Regions from separate parts of the Homo sapiens genome. Here region 2 is reported to be linked to region 1. The links are microRNA targets in miRTarBase. Many come from high-throughput screens and were not tested one by one. Region 1 holds a microRNA gene; the other region holds the end of a gene's coding sequence.
The links. Region 1 holds the annotated microRNA hsa-miR-92b-3p (UAUUGCACUCGUCCCGGCCUCC, at 3,186-3,207, opposite strand). A microRNA usually pairs through its seed, bases 2 to 8, with sites in the 3' UTR of a target mRNA and lowers its output. Matches are read on the target gene's strand: a 7mer-m8 pairs with bases 2 to 8, a 7mer-A1 pairs with bases 2 to 7 and ends in A, and an 8mer does both.

Region 2: miRTarBase lists SYMPK as a target of hsa-miR-92b-3p. The part of its 3' UTR that is shown has no 7-base or 8-base seed match.

The regions. Positions count from the first base shown.
Region 1 is chr1:155,193,444-155,198,443 of GRCh38, reverse strand. MIR92B (microRNA 92b) reads right to left here and starts at 3,267; the gene lies at 3,172-3,267. THBS3 (thrombospondin 3) reads left to right here. Exons shown (of 23, transcript NM_007112.5): 17 at 1-35; 18 at 224-402; 19 at 516-564; 20 at 785-981; 21 at 1,231-1,403; 22 at 2,318-2,457; 23 at 2,545-2,856. The coding sequence ends at 2,603. It overlaps THBS3-AS1 (THBS3 antisense RNA 1), which reads right to left and starts at 3,447. Exons shown (of 6, transcript NR_183238.1): 1 at 3,072-3,447; 2 at 1,427-1,593; 3 at 1-100. RefSeq lists enhancers at 607-1,442, 1,443-2,278 and a silencer at 3,435-3,764.
Region 2 is chr19:45,811,083-45,816,167 of GRCh38, forward strand. SYMPK (symplekin scaffold protein) reads right to left here. Exons shown (of 27, transcript NM_004819.3): 26 at 4,769-5,085; 27 at 4,328-4,615. The coding sequence ends at 4,478. It overlaps RSPH6A (radial spoke head 6 homolog A), which reads right to left and starts at 4,226. Exons shown (of 6, transcript NM_030785.4): 1 at 3,445-4,226. The coding sequence starts at 4,094. RefSeq lists an enhancer at 1-38.

The sequences.
Region 1 (5,000 bases):
CCTGGTACCCAATCCCAATCAGAAGGACTCAGATGGTAAGCCTGCGGACCCAGAGCACGTTAGACTGGTGTTGCCTTTGCCCAGGTGGAGGCAGCAAGCCCTGTTGGGAAGTGAGGAAGGGCAAGGTGGGGAAAGATGTCAGGAATGCAGGCCCAACAGATGGTATTGTTGCCTAATGGCAGTGGCCAGGGCCTTCCTGAGCACCCAGCCTCACTCTGCCCAGGCAATGGCGTTGGTGATGTGTGTGAGGATGACTTTGACAATGATGCTGTGGTCGACCCCCTGGATGTGTGTCCTGAAAGTGCAGAGGTAACGCTTACGGATTTTCGGGCCTATCAGACCGTCGTCCTGGATCCTGAGGGTGATGCTCAGATTGACCCAAACTGGGTTGTGCTCAACCAGGTAACTCGGGGCAGTGGGCTGGGCAGGTGCTATCAGACAGGGCTACTGGGACGGGGGGCCTGGGAGGGATAGCACACCTGCATCACAGCTTTTTCTTTACTATACAACCCCAGGGCATGGAAATCGTTCAGACCATGAACAGTGACCCTGGCTTGGCAGTTGGTATGTAAGGGATATGCAGTTCAATCACTTCCAAATGGAGGAATCCTATAGGGGCAGAGGGTAGGGGAGGAAACAGACAGGGAGAATGGGCAAAGTGGCGAGAGAGAAGGCAGTGGCACAAGCTGGCCACATACATAGCAGGCATCCCTTCCCAACTTTACCCCATGATGGGCCGCCAGTAGCTTTGCTGCCCCTGACCTTTATCCCACCCCCACCCCAGGATACACGGCCTTCAATGGTGTGGACTTTGAAGGCACCTTCCATGTGAACACAGTGACTGATGATGACTACGCAGGCTTTCTCTTCAGTTATCAAGACAGTGGCCGCTTCTACGTAGTCATGTGGAAGCAGACCGAGCAGACCTACTGGCAGGCTACACCCTTCCGGGCGGTTGCCCAGCCCGGGCTGCAGCTCAAGGTCCCCAGCTGCTCAGATTCCGCAACCCAGGGCCCTTTCCCAAAGCTCTCCTCTGCAGCCCCAGGGCCTCCCCCACTGCTTGACTGGGAACCCTCTTACCCAGACATCTGGCTTGGAGGCCGGCTCTCTGGGGCCCCAGGGCATTTTCATGACCGCCTTGAATCCCTTTCCCACCTGCACTTACCGACCTGTTGTCTCCCCTCACTCCAGTTCTGCAGTTGACCCACTGTCTTTGCCAATGTCTCCTAGGCAGTGACATCAGTGTCTGGCCCAGGTGAGCACCTCCGAAATGCCCTGTGGCATACTGGCCACACCCCTGATCAGGTACGACTGCTGTGGACAGACCCACGAAATGTGGGCTGGCGGGACAAGACCTCCTATCGCTGGCAGCTTCTGCACCGGCCTCAAGTTGGCTACATTCGGTAAGGAGAGGGGCTGAGCCCACCTGTGGGACTCAGGCCGGGCCTGTCCTTCCTCTTTAGCTGGGATTCACCAGTGACCTCTCCATGGGTGGGAACTGCAGCCACTTCTCTCCATCACCCTTCTCACCACGGACACAAGCACCTATGAGTGATGTTGGTGAAGTCACTCCTCCATGACCCATTTTCCCGTCTGTAAAATGAGGGCATTGGGTTAGATGCCCTTTACAGTTCTCCAGAAGCCTCCAAACCCAGGCCAATCTGTGAAGGGGCACATCACATCTGGTCCCTTAGTTGGTATGACCTGGAACCTGTCTTATCAACGTGGATAGGGATCATCTGACCTGGAAGGCATCATCATTTACAGAAGAGAAAATCAAGGCCCTGACTTCACAGGCCTCGGTTCAACACTTTGTCCACAACTTTGCATTTCTCTCCAACAAGTAGCCCTAGTTGGTGGAGATGAACAGGAAGGGAGGGGAAATGGGTCTGCTTAGAGGCTGGACTTTCCATGGCCAAGAGCCCAGAGTCCAGGAACCTGGGTTGGTTCCCCTTTAAGGTGCCTGGGGCTGTGGGGTGCCAGGACAGGGGATAAAAGGGGGTGGACTAGAGCCTGGGAAGCGGGTGACTTCACCCCCCAGCCCATTGTGCTTATTGTCATGGCAACCCAATCCTCGCTTGGAATGCGGCTGGTGCTTTGAGATGCAAAAGGAGCTGGACAAAGAGCTAGGGGCCCCAGGCCTGAGAAAAGCACCCCCCTTCCCTCTCCTTCCTGCCTCCCTTTCCCTCCCTCCCTTCTCTCTCAGGCCTGGTGAGCTCAAGGGGGGCTGGGGAAAAGCAAGGCCCCAGGCATGGTGGCACAGTGCCCACTGGCACCCTAGCACCAATGGATACTCCTATCCTGGAATCCTGGACAGGGTGAAGCTCTATGAGGGACCCCAGCTTGTGGCGGATTCTGGGGTGATCATTGACACATCCATGCGAGGGGGGCGTCTTGGTGTATTCTGCTTCTCCCAAGAAAACATAATTTGGTCCAATCTCCAGTATCGATGCAATGGTGAGGTGGCTGATTGAGATCAACCTAATCCTTCATGCCTTGTGGGAGAGCCACATCCTCTGACCTTACTTATTTCCCCTTCTTCAGACACAGTGCCTGAGGACTTTGAGCCATTCCGGAGGCAGCTGCTCCAGGGAAGGGTGTGAGGAGGAGGCCACCAGATTCAGAATTCAGAATTTTAGACCCTTTGGCCTTGGGGTCCATCCTGGAGACCCTGAGGTCTAAGCTACAGCCCCTCAGCCAACCACAGACCCTTCTCTGGCTCCCAAAAGGAGTTCAGTCCCAGAGGGGTGGTCACCCCACCCTTCAGGGGATGAGAAGTTTTCAAGGGGTATTACTCAGGCACTAACCCCAGGAAAGATGACAGCACATTGCCATAAAGTTTTGGTTGTTTTCTAAGCCAGTGCAACTGCTTATTTTAGGGATTTTCCGGGATAGGGTGGGGAAGTGGAAGGAATCGGCGAGTAGAAGAGAAAGCCTGGGAGGGTGGAAGTTAGGGATCTAGGGGAAGTTTGGCTGATTTGGGGATGCGGGTGGGGGAGGTGCTGGATGGAGTTAAGTGAAGGATAGGGTGCCTGAGGGAGGATGCCCGAAGTCCTCCCAGACCCACTTACTCACGGTGGCAGCGGCGACACTCCAGTCTATCAAAGATCCGCCGGGATGGAGAGCCAGGAGGGCGGGGGCTGCCCCGCTAGGGGTAGCGGGGAGGCCGGGGGGCCGGGGGGGCCGGAGGCCGGGACGAGTGCAATATTGGCGGGGGAAAAAACAACACTGCACCGCGTCCCGTCCCTCCCGCCCGCCCGGGGCCCGGGATCCCGCTCCCCACCGCCTGAAGCCGGCCCGACCCGGGAACCCGGGGCGCGCTGGGGAGTTGGGTTCACCTTGGAGGCCAGAGAGACTTGGCGCCCGGAAGGCAAAGGGAATGGCAAGGGGGAGGGGGGAGGGAGAACGGGAGTTTGCGGAGTCCCAGAAGGCCGCTTTCCGACGCCCGGGCGTTGCGCGCGCTTGCTCTTTAAGTACTCAGACTGCGCGGCGCGGAGCCGTCGCCATGGTGACGCGTGTCCCAGCAACCGAACTGAATGGCTGTTGCTTGGCAATGCCGGGAGTTGAGGTTTGGGGCCGCCCACCTAGCTACTCGTGTTTTCTCCGGCCTGCGAGTTGGGGGGCTCCCCGCCTCCCCGGCCCGCGCTCCCGGGCGCGCTGACGTCAGATGTCCCCACCCCGCCCAGCGCCTGCCCCAGGGTCTCGCCGCACACAAAGCTGCGCCTCGGGCGCCGCGCGGCGCGCGGGCGAGAGCTGTGGTCTCTCGCCTGCTGATCTGATGCGCTCCAATCCCGTGCCTCGCCGAAGTGTTTTTAAAGTGTTCTTTCCAACCTGTGTCTTTGGGGCTGAGAACTGTTTTCTGAATACAGGCGGAACTGCTTCCGTCGGCCTAGAGCGCAGCCTGCGACTGCGGGACCCAAGTTCCACGTGCTGCCGCGGCCTGGGATAGCTTCCTCCCCTCGTGCACTGCTGCCGCACACACCTCTTGGCTGTCGCGCATTACGCACCTCACGTGTGCTTTTGCCCCCCGCTACGTGCCTACCTGTCCCCAATACCACTCTGCTCCCCAAAGGATAGTTCTGTGTCCGTAAATCCCATTCTGTCACCCCACCTACTCTCTGCCCCCCCCTTTTTTGTTTTGAGACGGAGTCTTGCTCTGTCGCCCAGGCTGGAGTGCAATGGCGCGATCTCGGCTCACTGCAACCTCCGCCTCCCGGGTTCAAGCGATTCTCCTGCCTCAGCCTCCTGAGTAGCTGGGGTTACAGCGCCCGCCACCACGCTCGGCTAATTTTTGTAGTTTTTAGTAGAGACGAGGTTTCACCATCTTGGCCAGGCTGGTCTTGAACCCCTGACCTTGTGATCCACTCGCCTCGGCCTTCCAAAGTGTTGGGATTACGGGCGTGAGCCACCGTGCCACGCCCGATCTGCCTCTTAAGTACATAACGGCCCACACAGAACGTGTCCAACTCCCCCGCCCACGTTCCAACGTCCTCTCCCACATACCTCGGTGCCCCTTCCACATACCTCAGGACCCCACCCGCTTAGCTCCATTTCCTCCAGACGCCACCACCACGCGTCCCGGAGTGCCCCCTCCTAAAGCTCCCAGCCGTCCACCATGCTGTGCGTTCCTCCCTCCCTGGCCACGGCAGTGACCCTTCTCTCCCGGGCCCTGCTTCCCTCTCGCGGGCTCTCGCTGCCTCACTTAGGCAGCGCTGCCCTTACTCCTCTCCGCCCGGTCCGAGCGGCCCCTCAGCTTGCGCGGCCCAGCCCCGCAAGGCTCCCGGTGACCACTAGAGGGCGGGAGGAGCTCCTGGCCAGTGGTGGAGAGTGGCAAGGAAGGACCCTAGGGTTCATCGGAGCCCAGGTTTACTCCCTTAAGTGGAAATTTCTTCCCCCACTCCCTCCTTGGCTTTCTCCAAGGAGGGAACCCAGGCTGCTGGAAAGTCCGGCTGGGGCGGGGACTGTGGGTTTCAGGGTAGAACTGCGTGTGGAACGGGACA
Region 2 (5,085 bases), not on the chromosome of region 1:
TCCCGGGTTCAAATAATTCTCCTGCCTCAGCCTCCCGAGTAGCTGGGATTATAGGCGCCCGCCACCACGCCTGGTTACTTTTTGGATTTTTAGTAGAGACAGGGTTTCACCATGTTGGTCAGGCTGGTCTCGAACTCCTGACCTCGTGATCTGCCCGCCTCAGCCTCCCAAAGTGCTGGGATTACAGGCGTGAGCCACCGCGCCTTGCCGACATTCTTATGGTGGAAACAGACACTAATCAAACGAGCAAAATATATACAGTGTGTCAGGCATGGGGTGGTAATTTTTAGGGTGACACATATAGTACTGAATGGGGCCTGGGGGTGCCAGGGATGGGAGAAGGTTTGCAATTTTATTTTTTTAATTTATTTTTCAGAGGAGGTCTCGCTGTGTTGCCCAGGCTGGAGTGCAGTGGCACGACCTCAGCTCGCTGCAGTCTCTGTCTCCTGGGTTCAAGCGATTTTCCTGCCTCAGCCTCCCAAGTAGCTGGGATTACAGGCATGCACCACCATGTCCCGCTAATTTTTTTGTATTTTTTGTAGAGGGTTTCGCCATGGTGGCCAGGCTGGTCTCAAACTCCTGACCTCAGGTGATCCACCTTCTTCCGCCTCCCAAAGTGTTGGGATTACAGGCGTGAGCCACCGCACCTGGCCAACATTTGTATTATTATTATTATTATTATTATTATTATTATTATTATTATTATTAGAGACAGAGTTTTGCTTTGTTGCCCAGGCTGGAGTGCAGTGGTGTGATTTCGGCTCACCACAACCTCTGCCTCCTGGGTTCCTGGGTTCAAGTGATTCTCCTGCCTCGGCCTCCTGAGTAGCTGGGACTACAGGTGCACACCACCATCCCCGGCTAATTTTTGTATTTTTAGTAGAGACGGGGTTTCACTATGTTGGCCAGGCTGGTCTCGAACTCCTGACCTCAGGTGATCCGCCCGTCTTGGCCTCCTAAAGTGCTGGGTTAACAGGTGTGAACCACCGTGCCTGGCCAACATTTGTATTTTTTGTATTTTTTTTTTGAGACAGGGTCTCACTTTGTCACTCAGGCTGGAGTGCAGTGGCTCGGTCTTGGCTCACTGCAACCTCTGGTTCCCGGGTTCAAGTGATTCTCCCACCTCAGACTCCCCAGAGCTGGGATTACACGTGTGCCAACATGCCTGGCTAATTTTTGTACTTTTTGTAGAGATGGGGTTTTGCCATGTTGCCCAGGCTGGTCTCAAACTCCTGGACTCAAGTGATCTGCCTGCCTCAGCCTCCCCAACTGCTGGGATTACAGGCGTGAGCCACCAGGCCCGGCCACAGTCAGCCTTTGAAACCAAGTTGGTCTGATTTCCAAGCATGTATGTGTCACCTTTTGCTTTGCGGAAGCTGTTTTGTTGGCAGTCTTGGGTGTGGTGTTGGGCCATCATGGAAGTTGGGAAGGGTAAGAAGAGGTGAGACTTTGGCTAGGGCTTCTCAGGAAGAGAGCCTGAAGCTCTGAAGAGCTGGCACTTGGGGAATAGCCAGAGGTTAATTCTGACTAGATTCTAGGATCCGAGGAAGGAGCAGGTAGTGACTAGAAATCAAGTTTGGTCAGCGGCCAGGGGCTGAACCACGTAAGGCCTTTTGTTTGTTGGTTTGTTTGAGACAGAGTCTCGCTCTGTTGCTCAGGCTGGAGTGCACTGGCACGATCTTGGCTCACTGCAGCCTCTGCCTCCCGGTTCAAGTGATTCTCCTGCCTCAGCCTCCCGAGTAGCTGAGATCACAGGCGTGTGCCACCACGCCTGGCTAACTTTTTGTATTTTTAGTAGAGACAGGGTTTTGCCATGTTGGCCAGGCTGGTCTTGAACTCCTGACTTCGAGTTATCTGTCTGCCTCAGCCTCCCAAAGTGCTGGGATCACAGGCATGAGCAAGGCCTTATATGTCTCAGGCCAGGAGCCTTGAAGGTTGTGGTGAGGAGTCTGAGCTTCCCCCTGTGGGCAATGGGGAGCCATAGCAGGTTCTGAGCATTGGAGGGACACGGCCAGCTTTGTGCTTTAATAAGAACCATTACTTCATCAACCTCATTTCTCCCGCTCTCCCTCTTCCTCCCTTGGTTCCAGACACACCAGCCCCTCCTTACTGCTCCTCAAAAACAGCAAGCCTCAGAGCCTTTGCATTTGCAGTGTGCTCTGCCTGGCTCACTCTTCCTCCGGTCATCTGCAAGATGCTCTCCCTCGACTCCTTCAGGGCCCTAATCAAATGTCACCTCCTTGGACAGGCCTTCACTGACCCACACAATTTATTTTTTTGAGATGGAGTCTCGCTCTGTTGCCCAGGCTGGAGTGCAGTGGCACGATCTCGGCTCACTGCAACCTCTGCCGCCCGGGTTCAAGTGATTCTCCTGCCTCAACCTCCCGAGGAGCTGGGATTACAGGCCCATGCTACCATGCCCTGATAATTTTTGTATTTTTTAGTAGAGACAGGGTTTCGCCATGTTGGCAAGGCTGGTCTCGAACTCCTGACCTCAGGTGATCCGCCCGTCTTGGCCTCCTCAAGTGCTGGGATAACAGGCGTGAGCCACCGCACCTGGTTGGACCCCCACTATTTCATGTGTTCCCTAGCCCTCTTAGCCTCCCTTATTTTTCACCTGAGTCCTTAGCTTCAGTTTATCACTTTTTCTGTTTCTTGTCCACTCTCCTAGAATGAGAGCATCCTGGGTATCTAATGGAGGCTGAGAGCAGTGTTTTGTGACTGTAGCTAAGTGGCTTTGGCAAGTATCTTCCTCAGGCAGGGAGGTTTAGTTGCAGGATAAGAGGGTCTCAGGAGGGCTGGGCACGGTGGTTCATGCCTGCAATCCTAGCACTTTGGGAGGCTGAGATGGGCGGATCACTTGAGGTCGAGTTTGAGACTAGCCTGGGCAACATGGTGAAATCTTGCCTCTACTAAAAATACAAAAATTAGCTGGGTGAAGTGGAGCGCGCCTGTAACCCCAACTACTCGGGAGGCTGAAGCAGAAGAATCACTTGAACTTGGGAAGGAGAGGTTGCCCTAAGCCAAGACCACGCCACTGTGCTCCAGCCTGGGTGACAGGGTGAGACTATGTCTGGGGGAAAAAAAAAGCAAGAGGGCTTGGGGAGCCAAATCACGTGTTCTGGAATCCTGACTCTGCCATATCCTAGCTGTGTAGTTTTGGGTAAGCGACCCAACTTCTCTGTGTCTCGGTCTCCTCCTCTGTAAAGTAGGATGAGCTGATGTGCTCATCTCCGGTGAGAATTAGGTGAGTGTGTGCAGTGCCAGCACATGTCTGGGAAGTGAATGCTAGCTGTTGTTGGCATTGATTCCGACTCAGCTGAATTAGAGTCACTGGTTTTCCATGAGGGATGATCCCTTGTCTGACTGACTGAGGCAGGCACTTCGGGTGGGGCCCCTCCCTGCCTGGGTCCCCCACCCGCCCCACTCCTAGCCCCTGCTCACAGGCTGAGGTCGCAATTGATGCTGGTCTGCAGCAGGTAGGCCTTGGCGTTCTGCACGGCCAGCTCCAGAGGCTCGGGCTCAGGCACCTGGGCACTGTAGTGTGGGAAGCCCAGCTCAGAGGGCAAGAACTGAAGGGCAGGGTCATCCCTTATGTAAGGCCCGTGCTGGGCACCTTCAGAGAACTGGTCTGTCTGGTAGAGGTTGAACTGGCCCAAGGGGTTGACTGGGGGCTCCTGGAAGGTGGGGTCCAGTTGCTGGAACAGGCTGCTTTGGCCCTGCTGGAGCCGCTGCAGCATTAGGCTGGTGGTGAGCTCGGCGACCTGCATCCTGCTTTCATCAGAGTAAGGCTGAGGCTGGAACTCTGAGGGAAAGCCCGTGTTCACAGATGGGTACTCCATGCCACCCAGCCGGGCTTCCTCAGCCTGGAAGACCTGGGGCATCAGCAAGTTCTCCTGTTGGGACAGGCTGCCCCTCTGTGACCAACCAGGGGCGTTTCGCTGGGCGTCTGGAGGTATCTGCTGCCTCTCCTCGGGGTCCGCTGCCAGGGCCTGAGCTTGGTCCCGACTGTGCCGCCTCTGGGAGGCCTGAGAAGTCCTCCGGCCCGGAGGCTGCTGGGCAGGGCGCTCAGGGTAGGGCGGCAGGTCTCCCATGGTTCGCCAGGAGGCACAGATCTCTAGGAGAAAGGCTTGCAGACAAGGAGGCCAAGCGAGAGCCACCTGTCGACACCGCCGGTTTCTGAGCACCGAGAGAGGGGGCCGTTACCCGTGGAGGGCGCGGGGAGCGGGCCAGGGTGGGTTCCGCGCAGGCTCTGGGCGCGCACTCCCGATCCCGCGCAGCCCCACGGTGGACGTCGCGCCAGACTCGAGACGGCACCCGCGCCCCAGGCCCGCCATCCCTTTTTTTTTTTCTTTTCAGTAACTTGCCCAAGTTCACATCTTTTATTTCTTTTTAAGGCAAAGCACCCGCAGGTCAAGCCCCGCCCCGTCCCCCAGCCCCGAGTCCCTGTCCCACCCCCTTTCCCCCTCGAGCCCCGTCAGCTGTTCCCCTTGGCCTCGGGTTCCCTGGCGTCCTCGGCAGCCGGGCTGGGAGTCTTCATAGCATCTTCTCCAACAGGTGCGAGGGTCTGGGGGCTCCGCTCCTCCTTCAAGGTCAGCCCGCCCGCTGCCGTCTCCTGGTGACCGGGGAAGGAAAGGGCAGCCGGGTGGAGGGCGCGGTCACCTCCACGCTCCCCTTCAGGCCCTGCCCCCTGATGGCCCCTCCTCCCCCACCTTCACCCCGGCCCAGATCCGGCTTCTTCCTTCGCAGCGGAGGCTGCTCTCCCTACCTTGGGTAGGGGGCCCTCGAGACTAGAGTCCAACAGCGCGGCCTCGGTCAGCCCCGAGTCGTCATCCATGCTGATGAAGATGCCCGGGGTCTCGCACTCAGGCCCCTCCTCCCGGAAATCCATGGCTTCCTCAGACGGGGGCGGGCCTGGCCGGGCCGACGGAGAGGGAGAGGGGGAGGAAGAGGAGGGGGCTCCCACTCCTCCCGGCTTCAGCTTCTGTTCCTCCTCCAGCTGCCGCTTTAAGGCCTTCTCCTGGGCCAGTCGCAGGCCGATGAGGTCCTGAGGGGGCCGGGGTGCTGGGGCCGGGGCCAAGGTCA